2 separate regions of the Homo sapiens genome follow, and region 2 is linked to region 1. A link means that fine-mapping ties the variant in region 1 to the expression of a gene that starts in the linked region. Tissue or cell type: left ventricle. Region 1 holds a variant in brackets; the other region holds the start of a gene. All regions are shown on one strand. Distances are from middle to middle.

What was found. PIP is the estimated chance that this variant, and not a neighbour inherited with it, causes the effect.
Region 2: it holds the start of CD1D, and the variant in region 1 is fine-mapped to the expression of CD1D in left ventricle (GTEx, PIP 0.97).

The regions. Positions count from the first base shown.
Region 1 is chr1:158,145,906-158,154,168 of GRCh38, forward strand. All of the region lies in intron 1 of LOC105371460 (a long non-coding RNA gene), which reads left to right. Among named protein-coding and RNA genes, the nearest start is that of LINC01704, 9.4 kb to the left of the region's middle. The variant C/A (reference allele first, on the strand shown) is at 3,893.
Region 2 is chr1:158,177,385-158,185,384 of GRCh38, forward strand. CD1D (CD1d molecule) reads left to right here and starts at 3,511. Exons shown (of 6, transcript NM_001371762.2): 1 at 3,511-3,778; 2 at 4,071-4,337; 3 at 4,648-4,926; 4 at 5,494-5,772; 5 at 6,552-6,651; 6 at 6,745-8,000. The coding sequence starts at 3,718. The coding sequence ends at 6,766. It also overlaps the pseudogene ELL2P1. RefSeq lists a silencer at 2,520-2,569 and an enhancer at 3,982-4,041.

The DNA of each region.
Region 1 (8,263 bases):
CCAGAAAAGTCTGAATCCTTCTCCTTCCCCCTTTTATCCTGACAGGAGTATGGAGCCATTGGTACTCAGTGGGGACCCAGAGACCTTGGCTCCATTTCTAACTGCACCATTCAGCCTGAGACATTTGGGTCTGCAGTGTCCTTTATCAAACACACCGCCCAGGCTGCGTAAGACTTCCCTGGCCTTCCTCCATATCCATCCTTTAGATAGGCGGTCTCCCCATCTGTGAAGACCCACCCTGTGTGTGTTGGTTCCCTCTCAGATGTTCCAGGGACTGTCTGAGGACCTCTTTCCCATTCTCTCTCAAGTGCCTCAGGGTCCATCAGAATACCCACTTCCCAAGCTCTCTGGCCTGGGAATGAGCGATTACGTAAGTGCCCAACACCCAGGGAATTGTACACTGCTCTATCCTGTTTCTACATTCCATACCCTCTCCTCGGTCTATGCAGCCAGCTCACTCCCATCTGCAGGGGAGGTGGGGAGACTATGTTTCGCTTATCATCCTTCCCTCCCCATGACTCATCCAGCTGCATGTCCCGTCAGTTCCTGAATGCCCAGGCTGACATCTCTGCCTTGGGTCAGATACAGGGGGATATCACCGTCCCACTTCACCAGAAAGCCATGGTTCTGTCAGATCAGACCCTGCTCATAGCATCAATTTTGTGAGGCAGGTTCACTAATAACCAATCCCAAGAGAAGACTCCCACTACAAGCAGGACAGCAGAGATCGACACTATGCCAATCGACAGAAATAGGAGCCCACACACTTCTGCCCACTACATCCTGGCCTGAAGGTCTACCAATGTCTGCTGGAGATACACTCACATGCAACAAATTTTGTGAGGTGGGATTATTACTTACAGGCAAGCAGCAAGGGAAAAAAGAAGCCTAGGATCCATTGTGAGGCAGCCCTCAAGGCTCAAGGAAGCTTCCTGGGCAGGATTGAGTGTTGCCCGTACATGCCCCATGTGCACCACAAGTGAGGGGCCCCAAAAGGCAGCCCACTATGAGTTATATACCTCAGGGGTCATGTGACTCACTGGACAAAGCTGGGAAGGGCATCCTGCTTCCAGGGGAGAGAGGTACAAAGCCTGGGCTGTCCCTGGCACCTCCTCTCTAACTCCAGATGTTACATTCCCTAGGAGGGACAGGAACAAGGAGGCCCAGTCTATTTCAAGCGGTTCCTTCCTTTCTCAGGATATTGTATTCCCAGCACATTTTACAGTTTTTCTTGAGAATAACAAGCAAGAAAGAGAGGAGAACTGGGTTTGTCCAAGGCCACTTGGAATATATTGTCCTGCGCTAACATCCTAGAGGTGCCATTAAAAGTGGAAAGTTAGTTCTGCTACCCCGAACCATACTACAGCTCCCCATCCTTAACATCTCCTAGATTTAAAACCATCCCCTAGAAGATAATATGGAGGTAAAAAGAGAAAGGGCACTGATGGAGTCGTGTGTACCCAGCCACGGAAATGAGTGATGTGACTTTTGTTCTCACCTCCTCCAAGTGAGGGGTCTCCAAGAGAATCACTCATAGAAATTGGTGGGCTGGCAAGAAGAGACTGTTATCTCAATCTCTGGTTGGATATCTGCTGATGAGCTTGTTGATCTGTACTCTGTGATCACTAGAGCAGGGAGAGAAGGATGACAGGGAAAGAGCTATCACTCTTACCACTTGGTTTAGCAAGGATGTGTGAGTCAAATGAACAGTGTGGAAATCGGTGTGAGTTTACTGTGAGTTAAATGAACAGTGTGAAACTCAACAGGGTGTGGGCCATCTTGCCGGTTCTCCTTCCAAGAGAATTGGCTGCCAAGCCAGGGAACCTAGTTATACCACCAAGAGCAGGGCTGAGGGGTTGTGGGAAGTAGTTATGAGGCAGGAGAATAGGGTCTGAAGGCAAGGAACCTAAGGCGGTTTCATGCCGACTTCCTTAGAACTAAATTGAAAGGAAAGCCTTAACTTTCCACGCCTAAGTAACAAAAGGACCAGAAGCTGCTCCCTTTAAAAACTCCTACCTTTTCTGCAGGGCAGATGGGAAACTGAAAGTACCTCTGATTGGTTGCTTTTTGCAATCAATCAGATGTTTGCATAGGAGTGTAACTTTGTAACTTCACTTCAGCCTCTGATTGGTTGTTTTCCACAACCAATCAGACTGATTGTGGGCCACCACTTCATTTACATGGGGTGAACACCAAGTGGCCGATGGGAAACCTCTAGGGGGTATTTGGACCCAAGAAAATGCTGCATCAGAGCCCTTGAGCCTCTGCTCAGCCTGCTCCCACACTGTGGAGTGTACTTCCACTTTCAATAAATCTCTGCTTTTGTTCCTTCTTTCCTTGCTTTGCTGTGCGTTTTGTCCAATCCTTTGTTGAAAACGCCAAAAATCTGGACAACTTGCAGTCAAGACCCTCTACCAGTAACAGTTTTAAGCTGCAGCAGATCTCCCATCAAGGAATTGTGTACTGGGGAGAGCTCCCAGGGAACTAACCCATGTGCCTATTAAGAACTAGCATTTGGGTACCTTCCAAATGGAAGGTATTCGTGACCAATCAGCCTTCAACTGAGAGGTGGAGAGAACCAACAGACAATTGCAATTAAATGCCCAGTTAGGCAAAATGACTTTTGGCCCTCACTTCCCAGCCCTCCCTGATTTTTCCTCAGGGTCCCAACACAATAAGTATTTTTGGGAAAGGCAGACTTCTATTAAAGGACAGAATACACCACTTCCCCAAACCAAGCTCCACTGCTCAAGTCTGGCTGGTGCTGAGGGGAAGGAAGGAAGTTTTGCAAATCTCACTGCAAAACTTGAAATGAGATGTAAGATTTTAAGTGGACTGCATTAGACTGGACTTCTAATAATTAAGTAAACAGAAAACTACAGAATCCGTCAGGGCTGGAAGAACTGAGAGTATGGTTGAAGGCACTGGTTAAAACCTCATTGAGAATATGTTCAGCAGAGTTCAGAATGTTCATTAAGTTGTTTCTACATGCAAAAAGTCTTTGAAGTAAGAGGCAGCCTGGTTTGTTAAACTGATAGTTTCTGAAGATGACTGGAACACAGAGGGAGAGAAGGAAGTCTGGAAGACTAGGAAGAAGTCAGGCAATGACAGCCTTGTTAAGGTGTTCGGACTTTATTCTGTGGGCCAAGAGAAGCCATGAAATATTTTAATGATCAAATTTGCATCTTAGAATGATCCCACAGCCGGTAGGGTAGGGACTAGAAACAGGGAAATCATTTAAGCAAGAGAAAATGGTATGGCAGTGGAGATAGAGAAATGGCAGTGTGGATGGAGAAAAGTGGGAAGATATGTAGGTGGAGAACTGTCAGGAATTGCTTACTGATGAGACGTGGGCTCGAGGGAAAGGCGAAGGAAGCTTCTCTTTCCCTACCTCTCCTTCCAACTGGCCCTAGAATTGCTGTCCGGTTTCCAGTCCCTGCTCACACTTCATTCAATGGTGGAGGAATGCCCAGCTGCTGTCCCATGGGGGTCTGGAGGTCTATGGGCACCAACAGTACCATTTCCACAGTCTTTCCAGCAGCGATAGGAGGCAGGCTGTGCCTCGAGTGTCATCTGGTTTGGAGGCCGAGGTCCCCACGTTTAAGTGACTTGCTTAAGACCCCACAGCTGGTTTGTTACAGAGTCCAAATTTCACTCTCAGCTTTAGGGCTCTTTTAATAACACTTCATTGCTGCATCCCGAAGTTAAGCAAAAGAAACAAAATAAAGATAAAAAGGAAAGCACTGTTCCAAATGCATAGCCTGGAGCATAGCAAAATATGTAATTAAAGACCCGCGCCTGATGTCGGGGAGCCTCGATGTGCGCATGCGTCCCAGGCTGAGGCCGCCGGAAGAGGTCAGGCGGTTCGCCGGCGTTCCAAGTTGGAGGCCAG[C/A]CCAGGACAAGGAGGGGAAGTGCGCATGTGCTCCAAATCATTTCCCGGCCGAGGAAATTGGCTAAGACCGTTAGCTGGTGGGAATCGGAAGAGAATGGGTCACTCGGGCTGTGCGCGGGGCACTATGGGTGTTGTAGTTTTTGCAGGGTGGTAGCAGTTTGTTCTTTTAAGAGGAAATCTTCGCGACTAGTTGAGTCACGAAGATTTTTGAGAAAATCATTTGAGAAAAAGTTGCTTGCACGGGGGAATCGAGTGTGGACTAGCTACGTGGGTGTGGCTTAATTCTGCTGTTTCTCTTTTGGATGAGACATTGAATGAAGTGTGAGCAGGGACTGGAAACCCGACAGCATTTCTAGGGTCACTTTCTGCCTTGCCTTCGTTAACGCTCAGTTCCTCCCACATCTTTGGCTTCCCTCTATAATACCTACAGATTCCCTTTATTATTTCATACTAGCTCCGACTAGTCTTAAATACTCTGTTTCTGTCCTCTTTCTCACACGCAGTTCCTGGAATCTTCATCCTTCTCTCCCTCGTGAGTACCTTTTCTTGTTTTTGTCCTAGACAGGGCTCCTCTAACACTCTGCCCTTGCCCCAGGAGTCACGCCAAGGACCCTAAGAAAAGGATCCCACAGTAAATGTTTTTAGGCACGAGCAGATCGGAACCATCCTACTTCATTTCACTTATTTCTGCTTCTCTTCCGATCCTTGTCTCTTCTGGTTCCACCTCTATGTTCTACCTCTCTGTAGCCTCTTTGCTTCTTTGAAGTCTGGTGGCCTTAGATAGGAACTCTCAGACCTGCCATTTTGTCTCTGGCCTCCACAGCCTGTCATTTAACAGAGGACCTAACCCTGGGTTGACTTCTAGGTCAGAGAGTGGGAAGTGAAACAAATTGGAAAAAGAGAGGAAACTGATGTATTAGGTTTGAAGAAGTCGTCAGGGAGATATATGGTGAAAGAGGGGGAAGAGAGAGTAAAACTTCTTGTGCCCTCAAAAACTCTTTAGTGCTGGCTGTGTGCAGAGGTCTGTGAGCTCTGTGGTGGGGATGCATTAGTTAGAATCTTAGATGCTGAGAGTTCAGTTGTAGAGAACACAGATATACAGGTGAGCAACATTGCAGAATGACATCGATTTATCTTTTACCTTTCTGTGTGTGCTTCTGCTCCTTCCCATACCTACCCCAGCTAATTCCAAAGTATTTTGCTTCTTCACATCTTTCTCTGTTATACACTCCACTTCCCATTCTTAAGGCCCCCTTCCCTTTGTTCTGACCCAAGCTATTTCTTTTGTATATCATGTTAAAGTCATATTTTAGTCTAGCTCTCAAAAACACCATGGTTGTATTTTCAAAGAACTTCCAGAATCTGCTTATTATCTCTTTCAAAGCATGAAATATGCAATAAAACCAATACTATTTTTCATTTAAAAAATATGTAGAGTAATAGTTGAAAGTGGAGAGTGATAATGGATGAATGAAAGTTGACCAGAACCCAGGAGTTTGAGACCAGCCTGAGCAAAATGGTGAAACCCCATCTATACAAAAAATACAAAAACTAGCCAGACATGGTGGTGACTGGACCTGTGGTCCCAGCTACTCGGGAGGCTGAGGTGGGAGGATCGCTTGAGTCTGGGAGGTCAAGACTGCAGAGAGAGCCATAATCATGCTACTGCACTCCAGCCTTGGCGACAGAGTGAGATACTGTCTCCAAAAAAAAAAAAAAAAAGAGAAAGAAGGAAGGAAGGAAGTTGGAAATTTGGCTATACCTCATTTTGGTTTTCTTCCTTTGTTTTGAATTCTCAAAAATGTTGGATTCCCATAATACTAATATACATTTGAGACATGTATTTTTTTTTCTTTTTTTACTCAGGTTTGGTTAGCAGGACATTTCCAGGGTATCACAGTATACTGAAATATTACAAGAAAGGTCCATAAATGCTGTACATCCTCCAATCTGTAAATTGTTCAGCAACAGGAAGACAGTGAAAGATAGACGGCAACTCACCAAGAAGAATATGTCAGTGATTTCCCCTAAGATGTGATTGTTCCACAGAAGCATTCTTCAGGGGAGTGGGTCTGTGCAGGCAGTAAGTGGGAAGATCTTCACTTAGTGTGCCGTCCTTCCTCAGCTTCAAGAGAATCCACTTGAAGGAGAAGTCCCATATATTATGTCCAATGCTGTGAAGCATCTTTTGGTGCCTTCATTTCATCCAACACCAAAATCCTCAATGGTGAAGAAATCTATAAATGTAGTATTGACCTTGAGAAAAAGTTGAGCACAACTGCGCCCTCATGCAGCACTGGAGAAACCTATACATGTAAAGAAGGACAGTTTTCATTTGACTCTCAGAGCTGATTGTATATTGGCAAACATATTTTTCTGCCATTGCTTAGGGATAAGAAATCTAACAGAAACATCAAATAAAATACTGAAGAGAGAAAAAAAACACTTTTTTTTTTAAGGCCTTCTAGAAGGGGCAATTGAGCATACTCCACATATGTTGGCTAGTTTACCAGGAAAAAATAAAAGGAGCCAATTTGAGCAGTGGACTCTAGGTGACAGTTCTGTTTGGGCTGATGAAATCGATCAGCCATGAATACTCTGTCAATGTCTCCCACTACGATTCTCTTGCCATTTTTTTTTTTACCCAACCTCCACTATTTGGCCTAAACATCACCTCTGTCAGTCTCAGAGTTACACTCTCCCTCCTGTATTCTCAAATTTTCACATAGTTGTATGTGTGATTATAACATCATGGTTTCAGCTGGTTTCATCCTCTGGTCCGTTTACCCACCTCTTTTGATCATCGCCTTTTGTCTGGGCCATAAGTGAAAGTAAAAAGGACATTAGGTGAGTAGGAAAGGAGATTTGTTCACAATGCCTTTCACCTTGGCATTTGCCTTGGCTTCTGACCTTCTTTACTCTGGGATGCTTTTCGTGACCTCTCACACCCCATGATGGGTTAAGGGGTCTTTCCTCAAGTTGGTTTGCCCCGACTTTAGTACTTAATTATGCTGTATTATGTCAGGCTTAGGTGTATATCCACCTTACTAGTTGTAATCTCCATGCAGACATGGAATATGTCCTATTCAGCATTGTGTTCCTAGTACCTGGCATACAGTCAGTATGAGTAGATGAGTGAATGTAAAGCTCTTGTTTTTGCTAAACCCCTTTAAACCTTCTTGCTTCCCTCTTCCCCGTCATTTTTTCACAGCTCTGTGCTTCCCGTCCCCCATTAGTCCCCATCATTTTTCCACAGATCTGAGTTTTTCCCCCACCATTTATGTTCATACATTTTGCTTAGTTAAACCCAGCTTGCTCGTCACTGGCTACATGGAAAGGTGCTGGATATGGATGATTGCTTTTAGTATCAAAATCTGTCGGAAGTGTCTATATATTTTTCTTCCAGCCTTAGGCTTATTTTATGAAATTAAAATAAATATGAAGACTCTGTAGGTCTTGAGTTAGTATCACTTGAAAATGGAATTTCTCTGAATATTCTCTGAATAGAATAGTTTCTTGCTTGTTGCTGATATTGAATTGTAGGCCATTTTTGTAAGGATGATCAACTCTGAGTCATCCTTACATCCTGTGAAGAGAATAGACTTGTGAAGAGGCTCATCTTTCTTTAGTTTGGGAGTAGTGTTTTCATTTGATTATATTTAATGTTGGGAATTCATACTACTTCCTAGCATATCACGACACCACAATGTGAAGTCCCCATTTAGGAGGCACTAGAAATCTTCCTCATTTCACTGCCTGTTCAATTTCTGCCACCCTTTAAGCTATATTAATTATGACATGTCTTCCCGGATAGATGTAGGTGCCCTGGAGCAAGGCACACCAAAAAACCACTCCTTGTTCCTCTGCCTAATTCATTGTAAAAGCATATTCTTTATGATGGCCTCAATATTGCCAGTATTTTCTCTTTTCATATTAATGTCTGAAAAATGGCTCTGGGATTCAGAAGCTGGAATTTAGATTCTTTGTCACTAAATAGTTTCCCTCTGTTCATTTCATTTTCACTTGAATTCCCTCATATTGGGAATTCCCTGGGGTTACACACCAACCTTCCTTTGACTCTCCCCAGGTGGCTCATACAACTCTATTTGAGGAAAAGATTGTTGGGAAAAGAAACTGTACAGCAGAAGGGGAAGCAAGAAAGGGAAGAACAATTTTACTCAAAATGGTACTTCTGAGTTTAGTTTTCTTTTCAGAGATGCTATGAAGTCAAGCGTACATTTTTCCTTTTGCCAGTTATTCATTTGTTTTATCCTCTTTCTTTTGGGTCTAAGGATTCTTTCTAGGCCCAGTGAAAACTTTTCCTAGATGATGTGTCCATTTGAAACATAGCATGTGCAGAGAATCCTGATA
Region 2 (8,000 bases), 31 kb after region 1:
TTGTTGCACACACTGTAATTTTATCTTGTATAAATCCCAGGCAATTGAGCTGGGAGGCTCCAGAGCTGGAGAATGTTTGCTGGACGCAGTCAAAGCTGCCCTGAGGGTTGTCTTTGCCCACATTTGACAAATAAAAGTTAAAGTTATGAACTTCATTGAGGGGATCATTTTTGGGAATTTTGACAAGCTCCTGGAGTCTTTGGAACTGAATTGAAGGTCGAAAAGAAATTAAATTCTTGTGGCTCTGGTAAGTCTGGAGCGCCTGGATCGCCGACTCGGTGAGCTTCACATGCAGTACGGTGATGTTGTCCTGCCCCAGCCGTCCGCACGAGAGCCCATAGCGCTGCCCCGCGACCCCCCCACCCCCGACATCTTAAACTCCCAGAGGTGCCGCCGCCGCCAGTCCAGCTCCAGCCTCCACTGCGGCCGCAGCTGCTTGGGCTTCTGCAGCCGCCGCCACTGCTAGGGCCATCCCGCTGCTGGCGTACTGTCATATACTGCGCGGAGCCAGACCTCGGACTGCCATCGCCGCCACCTGCCCCACCCTCTGGCCCCGCGCCCCGCCCCAGGCTAGTCTCATTGGTCTAGTTCCCTCAGAACCGTCCTCATCGGCCGCCCTCCACTTTCACGGGGGCGGGGCCCAAAGTCGCTGGAGTTTTGCTCCTGGGACTGGACGTCCGAGAGGTAAGAGAGCTATCACAAGGTTTTCTAATCCTTATGTTTCTTTTAGTGGATCTCCAGGTTACTGTGGTTTGTATTATCAGGCTACTTACAAAAATGAATACCTCTTTAAATCAGGCCATTTTACAGCAAACTACGGTCCTTGATCACCATTATGCTCTGAATAAAGACTATGAGCAATTGCACTTGAATGCTGTTAAACTTTATTGACTGAACTTTGAATTGTTTGATTTTGATCAGGTTGGCTTGTGGAAAGTGCTATTAAGAAGAGTTCTTTAGTTCGTTGGTATTATCCTCCTGATAGCTATTATAAAAGTTTCCCTGATGTGTCCTCTCAAGAATCTTAAATTCTCATATGCAGCTATCCTTTGTACATTAAATGGTCTCCTTATGGTTAGGATAACAAAAACATGAAGAAAGCATATAAGATTCCAACTAATTTGACGTTGTGAATTGTGAATTCTGAACTGAAACCAAGTAAGTCCCTTATGATCAGGCTCCAAGGTTTTGGTCAGCCTCTCAAAATTGAGAGGCTGAAACCCTTTGACCAAAATTAACACATTTGCCCCTTCCCTCCAGCTCCTGGAAACCACTACCCTAACTCTGTTTCCATAAAATAGTAAACTATTTTAGAGTCCACATATAAGTGAGATCATGTAGTACCCACCGTGGGCTTATTTTAAGGCTCTGAGTAAATCACCATCTCTCTGTGCTAGGGTATTCTGAGTCAGTCTTGTTATAAAATATTTTGTTTAGGTAACATATTGCAAAACGTTTCATAATTCAATGGTTCCTTTCCCAGAAAAAAAGCAGTGAAAGTTCCAATAGCCAAAAAGTGTCTAACTCAACTGACCTTTGGGAAAAAATATCCGTATAATTCCAGATAGTCCTAACTTCTGAAGGTAATATAGCCTGGCCTCTGTTGATAAACAAACAAAAACAAAAAAACCACACACACACACACAAACCAGCTTCTTGTCTTTAAGTGTGCAAGAATGTTAGCACTTAAAATTTTTAAGATACACAAAAACTAAACAGAACTGTTCAAGTTTTTAAAGGGAGCTTGGAAATTTGAAGAAAGTAAAGTTAAAAATATTGCCCCATGAGTCATATAATTATTTTTCTTTTTATTTCTCATAGCTTCCCTCCTATCCATTATTTAGGCAATTTTGTATCCAAATTTAATAATTTAACACCTTATTTGTTACAAGAACACGTTACTATGTTATTTTAAGCTTTTTTGGGCAAATTACACATAATTAGATAGGCTGGGTTAGGGCTGTCTACAAGATCCCAGCCTAGAGTGTGGTGCAGTAGCCTATTTTCTCTAGGACTCTTGCTGCAACAGGATATGGGAGAAGGGAAACATTAACGTTAGCAGAATGGGAGGAATCAGATTATGGAGACATGATCCTTGCCTTCTGGCACCTCTCCAGCTGATTTAGAAGAGGACACAGAGGGAGACAGACATATGGCCATTTCTATAATTATAAACTCTGCTACATGCTGAGAGGATGGCTTCTCAAAGCCAGTTAGTGTACAAGCAGTGGAGGTTGGGACTGCCCTACTTCTCCTGCCTAGGGTCACACAGTCTGGCAGATCTGGAAAGACTTCCCTGAGAAAGTGACCTTGGAACTGATACCTTAGTGGAAATAACTAGGCATTGGGAGGGGGTGAGGTGAGGAGAAGGTCAAGAGCTTTCATGTAGAGGGAACTTTGTGCAGAGACCTTAGTCAGGAAGAGGTTTTGCATAGTGGAGGAACTGAAAGCTAACAGCCAGGCTACAGTACAGAGCAAATGATGCTGGGGTGTGAGGTGATGTCAAAAGGTAGACACCAGGGCTAGAGGGCGCATAATCTTGCAGGCCGTGCTAATGATTTTGTTTTCTACCCAAGAATGCTACTTCAGGAGATCAGTCAAAAGGTTAGGGTGATGGTGACGGTGGAAATATAGAAAAAGGAATTTATTCAAGAGGTATTCAAAAAGAAGTGAAATAGAGATGAGTTGGAGATAGATTGGATAAAAAGAGTGAGGGAGAGGGAGGTGTCAGGCTGCAGCCCAGGTTCTGAGTTGCCAAAGAGGAGTCTTTTCCTCCAGGTGAGCTAAGGCTTAGAACCACGATTTTTGGTCACTTTTTCTTATTTTCAGTGTGAGAAGTGGCGAGTTGGCTGTCCAGGTACACACTGTCATCTTACACTTACTGTTTAAGACAGAGGCGCATATTTGGAAAGTGAATGAGTCAGGAGCCAGAGGAGAAGGTATGCCGGCAGAGCCTAGGGCGGAGAGGAGGAAGAGAGTCTGGGGGCGCGTCCCCAAAAAGGAGACAGGGAAGACAGAGCAGAGGCCGGGGAGGGGAGAGCAAGGACCATGACAGGAGGAAAGAGAGGCTAGGGAACACTGAGGTGGAGGAATCCTGGGATATGACAGTTGTAAAGAATTGTAGCCAACCTAATCCAGTTCTCTCAATGTGCAACTGAGGAAATTAATTTTCATGCGTTTACTTTATTGTAAATGTGGTACTTGCACTTGAGAAATTTTGGAAAACATAAAGATGTAAAGCAAATTAAGATCACTCATAGTCTTTCCACCTAGAGACATGTACTGCTAAAGCAAGGACTTTGATCCTTTTTTCCCTTTGCATTTTTACCATGGTTGGAATTGTAACACAGACACAACCTTATGTCCTGCTTCCAAAACATAAATAATGGTTGTAAAGCGTCCCACACGTTGACCCAAAGTCTCCTTTGAAACAGGAAATTGAGACACGCCGGTTGTGAAACCTACTGAAGTGAGCGGCGGCGCCAGGATTCCTGGGACCCCGACCTCTTTGCAGCTCGCACAGCTAAGGGCGAGGGCGCCCTTCGGCAGAAGCAGCAAACCGCCGGCAAGCCCAGCGAGGAGGGCTGCCGGGGTCTGGGCTTGGGAATTGGCTGGCACCCAGCGGAAAGGGACGTGAGCTGAGCGGCGGGGGAGAAGAGTGCGCAGGTCAGAGGGCGGCGCGCAGCGGCGCTCCGCGAGGTCCCCACGCCGGGCGATATGGGGTGCCTGCTGTTTCTGCTGCTCTGGGCGCTCCTCCAGGCTTGGGGAAGCGCTGAAGGTGGGTGGAACGAGGGCGCTTGAGTGCACTCGCGGGAGGGCGGAGAGAGGGAGCTGGGTAGGGACGGGGAGGGCAACGCCTGATGGGGACTGGTGAGACCCGGGACGCACTGGCGCGATCTAGGTAGAAAACTCGCTGCTCCCTGGCTCCGGGGAGAGGCAGCGCGGCACAGAGTTCGCTGGCATCAGCCGCCTCCTGAAGCTCATCTCCTCTTGTTTCTTTCTTCCTTCTCTTTATGCTGGCTGCTCTCCCGGCCACTTGCTACACGCCTCCAATCTTCATTCTCTCCCAGTCCCGCAAAGGCTTTTCCCCCTCCGCTGCCTCCAGATCTCGTCCTTCGCCAATAGCAGCTGGACGCGCACCGACGGCTTGGCGTGGCTGGGGGAGCTGCAGACGCACAGCTGGAGCAACGACTCGGACACCGTCCGCTCTCTGAAGCCTTGGTCCCAGGGCACGTTCAGCGACCAGCAGTGGGAGACGCTGCAGCATATATTTCGGGTTTATCGAAGCAGCTTCACCAGGGACGTGAAGGAATTCGCCAAAATGCTACGCTTATCCTGTGAGCTGAGGGATAGGATCCTGGGCCGGTACCCAAGGGGAGAGAATGGCCACAGAAACTCAACTGGGAGACTGTGGCACCACCTGATGAGATTCTCTGCTCTGTCCACCCTCTTCTGATTTCCCTTCTACCTGGAGATGTCCCAGGCTTTGACTCCTCAAAGTGTCCCTCGTTCCTGCCTACTCCAGGTCACTTACTTTCCTTTCCCTGAAGTCTGGGTCCCCATTATAACCTGCACATCAATTTCTTCTCTTTCATCTCTCCCAGTCTTTTAAACCCTTCTTTGATCTTTCTCCATTCCTCTCCACAGATCCCTTGGAGCTCCAGGTGTCCGCTGGCTGTGAGGTGCACCCTGGGAACGCCTCAAATAACTTCTTCCATGTAGCATTTCAAGGAAAAGATATCCTGAGTTTCCAAGGAACTTCTTGGGAGCCAACCCAAGAGGCCCCACTTTGGGTAAACTTGGCCATTCAAGTGCTCAACCAGGACAAGTGGACGAGGGAAACAGTGCAGTGGCTCCTTAATGGCACCTGCCCCCAATTTGTCAGTGGCCTCCTTGAGTCAGGGAAGTCGGAACTGAAGAAGCAAGGTCAGCCTGCCTTCCTTACTCCCTGCATTCCACTTCAGGGCTCCAAACGGGCTTTTCCATTCCAGGGTTCTCATCCCTTTGAGCATTCAAAGAAGAGGAAGGCCCAGGAGGGGCTGGATAAGGGGTGAGGGTATTTATTCATTTCACAGACATCAACTGAGCACCTCTTGGGTTCTATGAATTCAATTAATGAACAACTGGGGGTGAAAGGTGTCAGGCAGTTAGTTAGGATCCCTGCTTGGTAGGGGGATGTTAATTAATGCAATGCTTGAAATAGGCTACATATGTTACTTCAAAACAAAGGGTGTTATAGGGGAACAGACAAGGGGCATTCATAGGAGGCTGGGACCAGAGAAGAAGAAGGAGTATCAGGGCAGGCTCCCTGAAGAAGGTGGGACAAATGGATTGAAAGTTGTGGGAGACTTCATTTCCAGAAGTGAACATGTCAGGGGCATACAGGAAGGAGGGAAATAAAGACCTGAAAGTCAAAAAGGATGATATGAGGCCTGGAGCCTCTAATGCAGAGTTTTCACTTTAAGATCCCCCCCATTCCCTTGTTGGATACAGTGAAGCCCAAGGCCTGGCTGTCCCGTGGCCCCAGTCCTGGCCCTGGCCGTCTGCTGCTGGTGTGCCATGTCTCAGGATTCTACCCAAAGCCTGTATGGGTGAAGTGGATGCGGGGTGAGCAGGAGCAGCAGGGCACTCAGCCAGGGGACATCCTGCCCAATGCTGACGAGACATGGTATCTCCGAGCAACCCTGGATGTGGTGGCTGGGGAGGCAGCTGGCCTGTCCTGTCGGGTGAAGCACAGCAGTCTAGAGGGCCAGGACATCGTCCTCTACTGGGGTGAGAAAAAGCTGGGCCCAAGCTGGAAATGGCAGGAGGTGGTCCTCAGGCATAGAGGGAGGCACTGGGGTGGGATGTGGCTTGATATACCCAGGTTAGAGGAGTTTCAGAGATGAGGCCCCCAGTAAAAGGATAGAGAGAGGGGTTCCAGACACAGGAAGGAGGGAAATAAAGACCTGAAAGTCTAAAAGGATTGAAATAGTGCTCTCTATATACAAGAAGAAACAAGACTACAAAACTCAGGGATCCAGAAGTAGGCAGCGAATAAACAATCCCAGGACGATTCATTCCTTGGCTTAAAGGGAGCCAGGCCTTTGGGAAGGCAGGTTAGCAAAGATAGCTTGGTTGGTTGAGTGCTCCCTGTGTAGGGGCCAATGAATCTGCATATAATATCTCATCTCATCATTCACAGTTTTCTTTGAAGCAAGTACTGCTCTTTTCGTTATATAGATGAGGAAATGAAGGCGGAGATAGGTTAACTGCCCGGAGCCACATAGAAAGTGGACGGGCTGGATTTAGATTCAGGTCTGCCTTGCTACAAAGCTGTTGCCCTTTCCCTCTATGCTACACTAGCAAATGTCAAAGTGGGCTGAATTTGGGATGCCCAGGCACTGAAAACAAGATGGGGAATCTAAACTTATGAGGAATAGAAATTGGGGTTTTAAGTGGAGGAGGAAATAAGAAGCACCTGGTACCCTCACACATGCCTAGACCAGGGGATTGGATATATGTAGAGAGGGGTCCTGTGCTGAGAGACAGCCTATGTTCCTCCAGAGCAGGTGGGAGCTACACCTCCATGGGCTTGATTGCCTTGGCAGTCCTGGCGTGCTTGCTGTTCCTCCTCATTGTGGGCTTTACCTCCCGGTTTAAGAGGCAAACGTAAGTCTCCCCTTTCCCTTTCCTCAACCTCTCTCCCCTTCATTCCTGGCTTCCCTTTTCCTTAATGGTCTTTCCCTTTCTATTCTCTCACAGTTCCTATCAGGGCGTCCTGTGACTCGCCTTGCCACATCTGTGTCTCTGGAACCCAGGACCTCTGGACCTCAGGTTCCTAAGACTTCAGTCCTGGTCTGCTCAGGAATTGAAGATGTAAGGAATTGAAGATAGGAGAGATACCTTGAAAAAGTAGAGAACAGTCATGAGGCAGCTTTCATCACACCCTTTTAACATTTATCTAAAAGAATTTAAATTCTTTTTCAAAAATTACACTACAAGTTTATAAGCCCAAATGGCTCTGTGAAATCAGAAGTGCAAAGGTGTGCAAACTTGTATCTGAAGACCTACCAGGGACAAGCAGGTAAGAGCTGATGTGAGTGTGTGTGATGGGATCTGTAAGGAACTGGAACACACATGTCCTATCCAAAGGAATCAGCTGCAGCTGCTTGTTGTCAAGTATAAAGTCAGGACCTGGCTTGGCTTTAACCGTTTTTCAAGAAAACTGGAAATCTGGATTTTCAGCGAACATGCCTGATTTTAAAAGGTTGACTCAAGTTTTTACAAAATACTATGTGGGACACCTCAAATACATACCTACTGACTGATGACAAACCCAGGAGTTTGTGTGTCTTTTATAAAAAGTTTGCCCTGGATGTCATATTGGCAGTTGGAGGACACAGTTTCTATTGTAAATTTGGATTTACGACTGAAGAAGGACATTTTCTCTTTAAAAGAAAGTTAGGTTATAAGAAACAGAGGCGTCTCACATTTTTACTTGGTGTAATTAATAAACGAAGATAAATCATAGTGTATGTGTATTATGTTGAAAAAAACTACTCTGAGTAAGGATATTTCTCTCAAATGGTCATCACTTTTTTTCCTTGGAGGAAGATTGTCATGAAGGCATCCCTTCCTTCCCAAAACGACAACGGCAACAACAACAGTCTCCTTTACTTACAGCTATTAAAAGAGACAATGTAGGGAAAGGGCCAACACCACTTGGGCAAGCATGAGCTGCAGCGATGATGGTGATGGTAGCCCAGCCATGCTGTGTTCTTATCTTAGAGAGGACAGAGCAGGAAACTTACAGGGGTAGCAGACCTTTCTGATGCCAAAGAAATAAGGAGGCCAAAATCATGTTTGCCTAGCTGGGAGGTAAATCTCTTGGCAGTCAGGGTCCCTGAACACCCAGAAAAAATAAGTGAGACTTAACGGTTGGAGAGTGTTTGCTTGAGAAAAGTAACATTTCACACTCTCTATACTAGACTTGCACATATGAATTTAGGATGTGCGTG